Regions from separate parts of the Homo sapiens genome. Here region 2 is linked to region 1. Evidence: fine-mapped expression QTL. A gene starts in region 1. The other region holds a variant in brackets. All regions are shown on one strand. Distances are from middle to middle.

Region 1 (2,911 bases):
TCCTGAGTGTTAGTTTGATCATCCTTAGCACAGAAAATATTGATCTCAAAGATCAATATCCAATGGTATTTAATGTGGGATCACTCCTGGGAGAATTTAACAATATTGTTAATTTCAAACCATGGGAAGCTCCCTCTACATGAATGCATAGTTTGTATACATTTTAGTGTAAAAGACAAAATAACACCCTTCTCCTTAATTGTATTAAAAATGAGTTTTCAGTTTATTGCTACTTTTGAAACGATATATAATTATAACTAGCATTCTGGGACATTCTTGACATTTGACTTGTTGAAGGTGCTTGCATTGTGGATCACGTCCTGCAGTCTTTTGCACACAAACCAGGACAAAAGTGCATTGATTAGTGTTTTCTGTGGCACCTCCTCCTCTTCATCAGTATCCAACAGACTTATAATGGCATAGGTAAGTATATGAGACAGTTGATAAAGAAAAACGTATGCAAATACTGGTAGAAATCTTACTTCATAACCACTATTTCTACTCAAATTCTTCACCCTTCTCATATGGTGCCCTTTATTTCGTTTTGGAGTTTCAGAATCTATTTTAACTGTGTGTGTGTGAGATAGTCATAGTGATTTATAGCATGCAACGAAAAAGAAAACATTAATAGTACTGCCCCGATCTTCAAAGCTACCTGACCCCTGCCCGGTTTCTGCGCTGCTGGTTAAGGCTGTTTTTTCCACTGGTCAGGAAGTACGGAACTAGTTTCTGGGCATTTTCCTTTCCCTTTCCCCCTCCTTCCTCTCCACCGCCTCCTGGTCCCCCTCTGGTCTCTCCGGCTTTAACAGCGCCAAGCACCCGCGTGCTCAGGTACCCTTCCCTCTTCTCCCGCCCATCAAACAAAGCCCCGGGAGACAGGCGCGCGCCGCCGGCCACGCCAACAGGAGATGCGGCCGCGCCGCCACACGCTTGGAACCGGAGGAGGACAGCAAGCGCGACCACGCACCGCGCGTCCCCGCCGCTTCCTTCCCTCTGGACTCTTCCTTTTCCTCCCGGCCCGGCCCCCCGCCCCCGCTCCGGGAACGCGCCTGCGCACAAGCTGCCCTCTCCCTTCTCCGCCCTTCCTTCCCTCCGTCCCTCCTCCCCTGCCCCGCCTTCCTTTCTCTCTCTCCCGTTTCACTCACTGAGAGCTCCAGGTAGTGAGCAGTTCAGTCGATTTCCTCGTTACCCCGCCCCCCTTTCTCTTGCCCCCCCACCCCTCTCATCTGCCTGGTGGAGGATGAAGCGGCTGCAGTGGCCCCAGCCTCAGCAGCGGCACCGGCGGTGGCTGCGGTGTGGGTGGCCGGAACTGGGGTGGTGAAGAAGCGGTGGTGGCGGCTGAAGGAGCGGTAGCAGCCTCAGCCTCTTTCCCTGTGCTTCCTTTCCTCTTTAGTGCAGCGAGGAAGTTTTCGCTTCTGTACATGTGTTTGTGTGCGTGAGTGTGGGTGTGTGCGGTGAGGTTTGGGTGGCGTTTGTGCAGGCGTTGGGTTTTTTGCCCACTTGGCTTCCCGTAACCCAGGCAGCTGGGGAGCCTGGGCTGTGGCCCTAGGAGGGGGCGCGGCGGCGGGCTCTCTCCTTTTGTTGTTGTTTCCTCAGCCTGGGGAGCTGAAGGGGAGACGCGTCTGGGTGGGGCTGCTCGGAGCCCGGGCCTGGTGGCCCCTGGGGCTCCCGGGCGGGCAGGGTAGGGCAGAGTAGAGCGGGCTTCAACATGATGGCGGCCGAGGCCGGCAGTGAGGAGGGCGGCCCGGTAACAGCCGGAGCTGGAGGAGGCGGCGCGGCAGCGGGCTCCAGTGCCTATCCCGCAGTGTGTCGGGTGAAGATACCCGCGGCCCTGCCTGTGGCAGCCGCCCCCTATCCTGGGCTGGTGGAGACCGGAGTGGCTGGAACTCTGGGTGGCGGAGCCGCTTTGGGGTCAGAGTTCCTAGGAGCCGGGTCTGTGGCAGGGGCACTGGGGGGAGCTGGACTGACAGGGGGAGGTACTGCTGCTGGCGTAGCTGGTGCTGCTGCTGGCGTGGCCGGTGCTGCTGTTGCTGGACCTAGTGGAGACATGGCTCTCACCAAACTGCCCACTTCGTTGCTTGCTGAGACTCTCGGGCCAGGCGGCGGTTTTCCCCCTCTGCCCCCTCCCCCTTACCTGCCCCCTTTGGGGGCGGGCCTCGGGACAGTGGACGAAGGTGACTCTCTGGATGGACCAGAATACGAGGAGGAAGAGGTGGCCATACCGTTGACCGCTCCTCCAACTAACCAGTAAGTTAAGACTGCTGTTCAGGAATTTGGGAAGCTGGCTCCAGAAAAGAAGTGGAAATGAAGGGGTAAATCATACTTTGTCCTTTTCATCTGTGGTTTGTTAGGAAAAGTTTTTGAAGTTTCAGGTTTCTTGGGTAGGAATTTAATCTGATCACTTATCTTCCTTACAGGCATACTACCTGGCGTCTTCCTACATTTATTGCTCCTCTGGGAAAGTGTAAAGTCTTTAAGATGGAAAGCATGAGAAAATGTGTATCTAATGAGAACCGGATATAGTTCTGTCCCTTCCAAGTTGAGGTGGTGTCCCAGAATTTAGTCAAACTGCGGCTACCAAGGCAGTCATAGTGTATATTAACTTGTGTGTGTTACTTGATAAAGCTAGATGATTAGTGAGAAGCTTTGAATACAGGTGTTTAAACGAGTACTATAGTAATAATTTGAAAAATGTATTGGTTAGAATGTTTTTATTTCAGTGCACAGCCCAGCTTCTGATTAGAGAAAGCATAGTGATGCAGAAGAGTCTTTGGGTCACTTAATGAGAACTTGGGTCAGAGAGAAAGGAAAGGAATCCTGTGTATTATAGGTGTGATTAAGAGCCTATATTCCAACAATGTATCTTCTTCCATAGGCTTGCCACTTAATATTAACGCACTGCTTTTATAGT
Region 2 (2,911 bases), 370 kb after region 1:
TATCTTCAAGTTTATTAATCTTTCCCCTTTTATTTCCATTATGCTATTGACCTCAACTGAAAATTTTTTATTTTCATTGTTTTATTTTTCATTCTAAAATTTTCGTAATTTATATTGACTATTTTCATGTTAAGACTTCTTATTTTCCCATATATTTCAAGGATGTTTGCTCTTACTTCCTAGAACATGGTTATACTCACTATTTTAAAGTGTTTGATAGTTCCAATATCTGTATCATTTTGGTGTAGTTACTCTTGTGCCATTTTTCTTATGAGATGTTGAAATGTGTCTGGTGCTTCCTACACCAAGTGATTTTGAATTGTTTCCCGTGCTTTTAAAGTATCATATTTTAAAACTCTTAGTCTTGTTTAAATCCTATATAGAATGTTGATATTTGATTGTTTGTTTTAGCAGGCAATTGATCCAGTTGGGTGCAGACAAGTCCATATCTATCTTTGTATGTTGTGTTCAATTTTTAAAGCCTTTGCAGTGGTATTCCCACATGCACACCACTTAGTGGACAGTCTGGGACCTGGGCTGTAGTCAAGACTACAGTTAAGTTCTGAAAGCTTTTACTGTGCTCTTCAGGGTCATATTCATGCACATGGGGCCCAGGAGTGAGTCATGGCATTCATATGCAACTTTATAGAATTGCTTTTTAAAGTTCCCTCCATCTCTCTCTAACACCTTATAGTTCCCAGAAGCCCTCTCCTTCTGGTTCTCTGGCTAAAAGCTGGTGTTCTTGCTTCTCTGGCTCTGCCATGTACTTTCCATTACCCTGTATACCTACAGGGCAAAATGGTAAAAAGAATAGAAAGAGATAAAAAGGAAAAGCAAGTGGATTCTCCTGTGCTCTTGTGACTACAGGTCCTCTGATCAGAGAGGTTTTCTCTTTGATGAAATTGTAAATATCTTTCAAGTTATCTTTTCTGTTTCTGCTACTGCCACTGTGTGATCTCCTGCGGAGTAGGGTGGTAAGACAAGAGAGAGAAAAAAAAAAATTGAACAACACAGAAAGTTCCTCATTATCTTTGACGAAAAGAGATCCCTCATAACAAAAATAGAGAGCTTCTTTTGAAACACTTTCTGTCTGTACCTTGTATGCAGTATTGGGTTCCGGACTGCATTTGCATTCAGGCCAGGTAATAAAAAATGAAAAAAATCTGTTAACTTACTGCTTGTTTAGTGGTACTATCATTTACTTCTTAGTTCTCAACTGTCCCATATATTCTCTTCTGGGATTTTAGTTGCATTCATTTTGAGAGACAAGTTGAAGTATATTTATTCTATCTTGACAAGAAAAGAACTTTCATTTAAAAAAATTATAATTTTTAAAATTGTGATAAAAAACATAAAATTTACCATCTTAACCATTTTTAAGTGTACACTTCAATAGTGTTAAGAATATTCACATTGTCCTACCACAGATCTCCAGAACTTTTTCAACTTGGAAAACTGAAGCTCTACACCCATTCGACAAAAACTCCCTAAATCTCCCTTCCCACACCCCC[T/G]GGCAATCCTCATTTTACTCTTTTGTTTCCATGAGCTTGACTACATGAGATGTCTCATGTAAGTGGAGTCACACAGTATTTATCTTTTTGTTATGTGTTTATTTCATTTAATGTAATTTATGCAAGGTTCATCCATGTTGTAACATATGATATGGTTTGGCTCTGTGTCTGCACCCAAATCTCATCTTCTGGCTCCCATAATTCCCAAATATTGTGGGATGGACCCTGTGGGAGATAATTGAATCATGGGAGTGGGTCTTTCCCGTGCAGTTCTCGTGATTGTGAATAAGTCTCAAGAGATCTGATGGTTTTAAAAATGGGAGTCTCCCTGCACAAGCTCTCTCTTTATCTGCTGCCATCCACATAACACGTGACTCGCTCCTCCTTGCCTTCTGCCATGGTTGTGAGGCCTCCTCAGCCATGTGGAACTGTAAGTCCATTAAACCTCTTTCTTTTGTAAATTGCCCAGTGCGGGTATGTCTTTTTCAGCAGCATGAAAACAGACTAATACAGCATGTGACAAGATTTTATTCTTTTCTGAAGGCTGAATAATATTCATATATATATATATATATATACATTTTGTTTATCCATTCATCTGTGGAATAATGTGCTATAATCTTGGGTGTGCAAAAATCTCTTGGAGATCTTGCTTTCAATTCTTTGGATATATATGCCAAGAAGTGGAATTGCTAGATCATATGGTAATTCTATTTTTAGTTTTTTGAAGAATTTCCATACCGCTTTTCATAGTGCTGTACCATTTTACGGTCCCAAAACCAGTGCTCAAGGTAGTCTAATCTCTCCACATTTTCGGCAAGATTTGTTTTTTCCTGTTGTTTTGATTGTTGACATCGTAATAGGTAAGAGGTGACATCTCATTATAGTTTTGATTTCATTTTCCTTATGACTAATAAGGTTGAACATCTTTTCATGTGCTTCTTGACGATTTGTATATAATCTTTGGAGAAATGTCTATTCAAGCCCTTTGCCCATTTTAAAATTGTGTTATTATTTCTTCGGTTGTTAAGTTGTAAGTGTTCTTCGTATATTTTGGACATTAAACCCTTATAAGATAAGTGATTTGCAAATATATTCTCCCATTCCAAAGACAGAACCTCCATTTTCTTTTGTCTTCCAGTGTCACTATTGAGAGATGGGCCTTCTAGATCCTTCATATGAAATCTTTCTACTTCCACACTCTGAGAGCTTTTATGATCTTCTCTTTTCCACCAGCAGTACAATATCTCATGGCCATACACTTTGGCATGAGTGTATATAATAATTTGCTCCATTATTATGGGCTCTTTTCCTTTGAAAACTTTTCTCCTTCAATTCTGGGAAAAATACTTGAATTGGTCTGATGATGATTTCTTTCTTTCCATTTTTGGTTTTTGTGT

Alleles and levels. Positions count from the first base shown, and alleles are read on the strand shown. Sizes are in standard deviations (SD) of each study's normalised expression.
In carriers of allele T in region 2, the expression in putamen of the gene that starts at base 1,140 in region 1 tends to be higher than with G alone (moderate effect, 0.64 SD a copy in GTEx).

The links. PIP is the estimated chance that this variant, and not a neighbour inherited with it, causes the effect.
Region 2: its variant is the best candidate, but not a certain one, in a credible set for the expression of RASA1 in putamen (GTEx, PIP 0.78).

The regions. Positions count from the first base shown.
Region 1 is chr5:87,266,744-87,269,654 of GRCh38, forward strand. RASA1 (RAS p21 protein activator 1) reads left to right here and starts at 1,140. Exons shown (of 25, transcript NM_002890.3): 1 at 1,140-2,247. The coding sequence starts at 1,709. RefSeq lists enhancers at 869-1,163, 1,217-2,104, 1,862-1,911 and silencers at 912-1,161, 1,502-1,681.
Region 2 is chr5:87,640,520-87,643,430 of GRCh38, forward strand. No RefSeq gene overlaps it. Among named protein-coding and RNA genes, the nearest start is that of LINC02488, 20 kb to the right of the region's middle. The variant T/G (reference allele first, on the strand shown) is at 1,512.